2 linked regions of the Homo sapiens genome follow. The protein of the gene in region 2 purifies or fractionates together with the protein of the main gene of each other region. This does not show direct contact. Each region holds a gene or a part of one and is shown on either strand. Other genes may lie near its edges. The genes, in order: SLC30A4 and PNPLA6.

Region 1 (3,821 bases), on a different chromosome or scaffold from region 2:
TTCAATTTTTATTCAAAAGGAGCAAGGGAATATTACTTCTATCTGAATAGTTAAGTGGTTGTTCTCCTCCTTTAAGCTCTGACATTTTCAAACCAGAAGCTTCTATGTACTGTTATAAAGTGATCTGGAGGTGGAACTCTATATAGAATCACTGCCTCCAGGTCTAGAGTTGAGTATACAGTATACTGCCTATTGCATAAAAAAGGGTGGTGAGAAGCAGGATATGAACATATATATGTATTTGCTTATGTTTTCAAAAGGAAGTGCTGGAAGGATAGGCTAGAAACCAATTAAAAGGGTCTACTCTTATGGAATGGTATGGGGAGATGGAGTGGAGGGGAATGAAAGCAAGACTTCTCTGTGTTTTCTTTTAAAAAATAATTTTTGGCCAGGCATGATGGCTTATCTCTGTAATCCCAGCACTTTGGGAGGCCGAGGCGGGTGGATCACTTGATCTCAAGAGTTCAAAACCAGCCTGGGAAACAGGCTGCAGAGTTTGCAACCAGCCTGGGAAACAAAGCCTCGTCTCTACAAAAAATACAAAAGTTAGCCAGGCATGGTGGTGCATGCCTGTGGTCCCAGTCCCAGTCCCAGCTACTCGAGAGGCTGAGGTGGGAGGATTGCTTGAGCCTAGGAGGTCAAGGATGCAGGGGGCTGAGATCACGCCACTGCACTCCAGCCTGGACAACGGAGTGAGACCCACTCTCAAATAAATAAATTAATAAAATAAAATTTGACTTTTGCAACATGTTTTGCATATTTACAAAATAAATCAACAGAGAAAAAACCCATCCCTGTCCCACCCCACCATGTCATCAAAACAAAACAAAATTCAACAAGAATGGTAACAAACCAAGCTTCTTGTGGGGATTCCCTCTGTGAAGTTTTCAGGACCTGAATCTCCAAGTCTGGAATTAGAGATCACAAGAGCTACCCTACTTAAGTGTGTCCAAATGTAAATATATCTCTCCCCATAGAACTTCAAGAGATTACTCTGAAGCAATGGTACTGTGGAACTCAGGGACACCAACTGCTTTGGTTTACAGCTTTATTCATCAAATTCTATGTATCTTTGAATCTTCCTCAAGCAAACTAAGTTTTTTCTTCCAAATTTCCACCATTATTTCATAGAGCAGAATAAGTGAAATAAGGTCTATATCTAGATATCCCCTCATAATATTTCAGAATACAAAACAACAAAAAAAAGAAGATCCCAAAAGTTTCAGTGTGAAGCTTGAGTACCTTCTTAGCTCAGGAAATACCTATCTATCTATATCTTTAACAATTCCCTCCCTTTCATTTTTTTAGATGACTTTTAAAAATTGACATAAAATTCATGTAACAAAATTCACCATTTTAAAGTGTACAATTCAGTGGTTTTCAGTACATGTACAAGGTTGTGCAGCCATCATCACTACTAATTCCAGAACATGTTCAACACCTCAAAAAGAAATACCATATGCATTAAGTGGTTACTTCTTTTTATTTTTTAAGTTCTATTTTTCTGAGGTTCTTAATAGTAAGGCTTGGCTGGGGGCGGTGGCTCATGCCTATAAACCCAGCACTTTGGGAGGCCGAGGCGGGTGGATCACGAGGACGGGAGATCCAGATCATCCTGGCCAACATGGTGAAATCCCGTCTCTACTAAAAATACAAAAATTAGCCATGAGTGGCGGCGGGCCCCTGTAATCCCAGCTACTCTGGAGGCTGAGGCAGGAGAATCACTTGAACCTGGGAAGTGGAGGTTGCAGTAAGCCGAGACCGCGCCATTGCACTCCAGCCTGGGTGACACAGTGAGACTCTGTCTCAAAAATAAATAAATAAATAAATAAATAAATAAATAAATAATAAATTTCAGGAATAATTTTAATTTCAAAGAGCTATTTCTTGTATTTATTTTTCCAAAACATTTTACTGTTTTATTATTCTGAGCATATTAATAAGATAATTTAAAAACTTTTCTCCTGGTTCTGTTCTTTTCTTTTTCCTTTTTTTTTTTTTTGTCTCACTCTGTTGCCCAGGCTGGAGTGCAGTGGCTTGATCTTGGCTCACTGCAACCTCCACCTCCCAAGTTCAAGTGATTCTCATGTCTCAGCCTCCCATGCAGCTGGTATTACAGGTGGGCACCACCATGCCCAGCTAGGTTTTGTATTTTTAGTAGAAACAGGGTTTCACCATGTTGGCTAGGCTGGTCTCAAACTCCTGGCTTCAAGTGATCCGCCCACCTTGGCCTCCCAAAGTGATAGGATTACAGGCATGAGCCACCATGCCCAGCTTCTCCTGGTTCTTTAAGTTACTTCTCTTTCCTTTAGGGTTAATTTTTCTATTAGTTTAGTTTTGGTCATTTTAATTCATGGTGCTGGTTTTTCCCACATGCTGGAAGATTCTTGGTTGTCTATTCATACTTAGGGCAGAAGGATAGGGAAACTATCCTTTGTAAAAAGGAAATGCTGGAAGGATAAGCCAGAAATGAATTGAAATAATATTTTTTGGTAGAGACAGGGTCTTCCTATGTTGCCCAGGCTGGTCTCGAACTTCTGGGTTCAAGGGATCCTTCTGCCTCAGCCTCCCACAATGCTAGGATTGCAGGCATAAACCACCATGTCCAGCCTAAAATGGTTATTAATATGGGGTGTAGGGCAGGGCAGAGGATAACTATATTCCTTTAGGATGAGTAGGTGGAGAATCAGGATATGAGGTGGTAGAAATCTGAATTCTGGTAAAAGTAAGACTTATTTTGGAGCATCAACTTCCACACTAATTCTTAGTTTTCCCTGAACATTTTGTTCAGTTTCTTTCTAGAAGAACTATGTGGTGTTTTACTTGGCGGAAAGTGTAGGCTGCCTGAGTAGAGGTAGGAGTAAGAAGGGAGGTAGGGGCATAGTGACCACTGGGAACGGCTTCCCACTTATTCAATTAATCTTCCGTTTTCAGCCCCAATTCTCATTTCTGCTCATCTCTGTCCCTAAGCCTTAAGATCTGTTGGGCTGGTCCAGTTCCTAGTTCAGAGTATGTTCTACACATTGCTTCTTGGCTTGTTTTCTCCTTCAACCCACTCATATGTACTTTACAACTTCCAAAAATTTCTGGAAATGTGTTTACTGGTAACCCAATCATGTAATTCTCTTTGGTGTTTTGGTACCTCTATGTTTTTATCTTAATGGACTCTCAGAGAGACAGGAATCAAATGGTGCTGTCTGGTCTACCTTCTTGGAACTTAGTACTTTTAAGGAAAGGGAAAGATTTGACTTTCTATAGAAAATTCCAGAGACACAATAGGACCGGTCAGTTCTATTGTCTCTTATTTTTACATAGTATTTATTTATGAAGAAGCAAAGTGACTATGTAGAACAAACACTAAGTACTTCTTTAATATTTAATAGAAGTTTCATTATTATGGGTTCTTAACTTATATGTGTAGCATCTTCTGTGTTCTGTTATTGCATGTTTCTGAGGGAGTGTTTCACTGCTTTCATCAGAATTCCAAAGGGTTTATAACCTAAAAGAGTTTAAGAACCACAGGACTATATAAATGTACTCTCTCAAGCAGTGTTAAAAAAATTCCCATTCCATGATGATATGTTTACATCTTAGATCTTAACTGCAGGTGTTTAAATCTCAAAAAAATTAATGTTTAAAAATAATTTTGAAGCTGTTTAAAAATCCTAAGGCAACCAGTAAACAAATGACTATATAATATGTTGAGAAGCAGTGGAGTTTCCTTTAGGAACACATTCTTTTTTTTTTTTTTTTTTGAGAGAGACAAGAGTCTTACTCTGCCGCCCAGAATGGAGTGCAGCAGCATGATCTAGGCTCACTAC
Region 2 (3,821 bases):
CCACACCCAGCTAATTTTTGTATATTTAGTAGAGATGAGGTTTCACCATGTTGACCAGGCTGGTCTTGAACTCCTGACTTCAAGTGATCTGCCCACCTCGGCCTCCCAAAATGCTGGGATTAAATGCATGAGCCACCATGCCTGGCCCTTTCTTTTTCTTAGAGACAGAGTTTTGCTCTGTCACCCAGGCTGGAGTGCAGTGACGCAATCATAGCTCACTGCAGCTTCAAACTCCTGGGCTCGAGCGGTCCTCCCACCTCAGCCCCCTAAGTAGCTGGGGTGACAGGCATGCACAACCACACCCAGCTAATTTTTTATTTTTAATCTTTGTAGAGATGGGGTTTTGCTATGTTGCACAGGCTGGTCTTGAACTCCTGGTTTCAAGCAATCCTCCCACCTCAGCTTCCCAAGGTGCTGGGATTACAAGCATGAGCCACCATGCCTGGCCCCCTGATCAATTTCAATTGGCTTGGGCTATGGCACATTTTTCAGGGTCAGTAGCACATAACACACGCACTGCTACCTCCCTCTCCTGGAACTGTGGCAGACATTTCTGCTTCATCACTATTCTCATTCCCACCAATGCAGAAATGGCAGTAGAAATCACTATACAGTGCTTCCAGGGGTGCAGCTGGCCTATAAGGAGAAAGTTCTTACACAGCACATGCACAGCCACACCCCTACTACATCCCCTGCAGACATCACCAATTGATCACTGATCTGTTTTCCAGAGATTCCAGATGGGATTCCTGGATTCCTCCTGGATTCCTCCCCCTCATACCACTCTGGGCTTTAAGTAGCAAAGCTTAGCCGGACCACCTATGCAGGCACCATGCCACTCCTGCCCACTCACATAGATCTGGTCGAACTTCCCAAAGTCCATGGTCTTGAAGCAGTCGATGGGCGGGCGCAGGTACTCGCAGTAGGAGCTGGACTTGACAACCTCTAGCTGCCGCACACAGGACACGTAGGCCAGGCGGGACTGGATTTCAGCCATGTCTGGAACCTTTACCTTGTCAGCCCAGGGATTCAGCCGCTTCCACAGCAGCCACCAGCCGGACAGGCTGTCCCCGTAGGTGCTGAGGTCCGTCTCATCCTGGCTCCCCACGTCAATGGCGATGACCGTTTTGGCACCCATGCTGCGGGCGATGTCCGCTGTGGGGCCAGGGGGGTCAGCGGGCTGCTCCCCTCGGGGGCCCGGGGCAGAGATGTTCAACCCAGTCCCACAGATGCCATCATGCAAATGATCACGCAAAAAAAAAAGAGAGAATACCCACACATGCAAACACCATGCTGTCATGCACAGACGTGCAAATGATGCAACTGAAGTTGAGGAGGGGGGTCAGGTGTTGGGAGGTTTTGTTTTATTTTCTGAGACAGAGTCTCACTCTGTCGCCCAGGCTGGAGTGCAATGGCACGATCTGGGCTCGATGCAACCTCCACCTCCCGGGTTCAAGCAACTCTCTTGCCTCAGCCTCTCAAGTAGCTGGGATTAGAGGCATACACCACCACGCCCAGCTAATTTTTGTATTTTTAGTAGAAACCGGGTTTCACCATGTTGGCCAGGCTGGCCTCGAATTCCTGACCTCAAGTGATCCACCCGCCTCAGCCTCCCAAAGTGCTGGGATTACAGGCATGAGCCACTGTGCCCAGCTCAATAAAGCTTTATTTATACAATCAAACAGAGGGCAGGACTCAGCCTGTGGGCCATAGTTTGCCCACCCCTGGCCTACAAGATTGTGAGCATGTGTGCAGTTGGCGTACATGTCTGTTCATATATGCACACTTCTGGGGTGTGAGATTTTAAGTTGTGTACCTGCCCGCTTCTCACCTGCACCCATAAAGGTGGTAGGCATGACTTAACTCGGTCAGAGGTGCCGCATCCTATCTACGTGTGTGCACATCCCTGCGTGTTTGAGGGAACGTGCAGGACAAACGGGACAGACTGGCATGCGTTGGCAAATGCCCTATTTCACTGACACACGTGTTCATCTGTGCACATGTGCCTGTGTGTACACGTGTGTGTAAGCCCTACCTGCCCCTGAGAGAAAGCATGTGCATATATAGCTGGTGTGCACACGAGTGTTGCATTCCACCTGCATGTCCCCTGATGTGTGTGTGGACGTGTGCACCTGTCCCTCTTGTACGTACATCCACTTGTGCTTAACACAGCACGCCAGCAGGTAGATGTAGATTTCTTTCTTTCTTTTTTTTTTTTTTTGAGACTGAGTCTTGCTCTGTCGCCCAGGCTGGAGTGCAGTAGCATGATCTCAGCTCACTGCAACCTCCAACTCCCAGGTTCAAGTGATTTATCTGCCTCAGCCTCCTGAGTAGCTGGGATTACAGGCACACCCCACCAGCCTGGTTAATTTTTTGTATTTTTAGTAGAGACGGGGTTTCACCATGTTGGCCAGGCGGGTCTCAAACTCCTGACCTCAGGTGATCCACCCACCTCAGGCCTCCCAAAGTGCTGGGATTCCAGGCTGAGCCACCGCGCCTGGCCAGAATGTAGATCTCAACTGCACATGTCGCTGTCCACAGGCACATTCATGTATCATTTTGTGCAAGTGATCGTATGTGTGCGCATGTGTGTCTGCACCCCTGCATGGGCAGCTTGGGCATGTGTCCCGTCATCGAGCCTGTCTGTGTGTGCCCACGCGTGTGCGTGTGTGTGGTGCGGGAGGTGCTTGCGTGTGCGGGTGGTGCGGGCGGCCACTTGCCTGGCAGATTGTTGATGTAGCCGCCATCCATGAGTAGGTGCCCGTCCTTGGGGTCGCACAGCGGGGGCAGGTAGCCCGACAGCGTCATGCTGGCGCGCACGTACCGCCACAGGGAGCCTGCGCGGTGGGACACACAGACACAAACACGCACAGACACGCTCAGACACGCCGGAGGCCCAGCCGGCCCGATGGGCTCGCTGACCTGGGACGTTGTTAACGTAGCACCCGTCCACCAGCAGGTGCCCGTCCTTGGGGTCGCACAGTGGGGGCAGGTAGGGGCAGTAGGAGGCGCTGGCCCGGACGTAACGCCACACACAGCCTGCGGGGATGGCGTGAGGGGGGTAAGGCGTCCGACGAGTCTCCCTGCTCCCCTCCCCCAAGGACGGACGTACCTGGGGTCTCCGGGGCATTAGTGGGTGGCGGTTAGTGGTCGGTGATCGGGCCAGGGTGGACGGTCACTCGTGTTAACAACGTCCCAGAAGCTCAGCGGCCCTCCCGGAAGCATCCCCCCAACCCCACGTGGCGTCAGCGGTTGCTGCAGGCTGGGCGGGGACACCCACCATCTTTGTGGACTCGCATGGCTGAGGCGGTGATATCTGTGGTCACGTTGAAGTAAGGCAGCCACAGGTCCTGCGGGGACAGGGATCGAGGTGGGGGAGGAGCAGGGGGCTCCTCCGGGGAGGGGTAGGCAGGGCAGGGGATGAGGTGGGCCTACCTCAATCTGCTTATCCTGGAAGACCCGATGGATGCTGCGGTTAAAGGCAGACCCAGTGAACATGGAGGTGACTGGGTACGTGAGGTCCAACACAGGTTCCAGCACCGAAGTCATGCTCTAGGGACAAGGGGCCAGACAGGGTCAAATAGGAGTTACATGGGGTCACAGATAAGGTTCATCAATAGGGGGTGAGCAAGCAGCACTTAGGGGCCAGGTGCAGCGGCTCACACTGGTAATCCCAGCACTTTGGAGGCCAAGGCGGGCAGATCACTTGAGGCCAGGAGTTCAAAAGCAGCCTAGCCAACATGGTGAAACCCCATCTCTACTAAAATACAAAAAAATTTGCCGGGCTGGTGGGGCGTGCCTGTAATCCCAGCTACTCATGA

The links.
Region 1: the proteins of PNPLA6 (region 2) and SLC30A4 purify together in Homo sapiens (co-immunoprecipitation; one large-scale study listed by IntAct). This does not show direct contact.

Annotation. Positions count from the first base shown.
Region 1 is NC_000015.10:45,505,512-45,509,332, forward strand, and holds part of SLC30A4 (probable proton-coupled zinc antiporter SLC30A4), read right to left. Parts: intron 3,500-3,821; coding exon of another isoform or gene 3,438-3,499; exon of another isoform or gene 3,347-3,437; intron 1-3,346. UniProt on the Homo sapiens protein: Probable proton-coupled zinc ion antiporter mediating zinc import from cytoplasm potentially into the endocytic compartment. Controls zinc deposition in milk.
Region 2 is NC_000019.10:7,556,184-7,560,004, reverse strand, and holds part of PNPLA6 (patatin-like phospholipase domain-containing protein 6), read right to left. Parts: intron 3,553-3,821; coding exon 3,436-3,552; intron 3,351-3,435; coding exon 3,281-3,350; intron 2,838-3,280; coding exon 2,721-2,837; intron 1,156-2,720; coding exon 854-1,155; intron 1-853. UniProt on the Homo sapiens protein: Phospholipase B that deacylates intracellular phosphatidylcholine (PtdCho), generating glycerophosphocholine (GroPtdCho). This deacylation occurs at both sn-2 and sn-1 positions of PtdCho.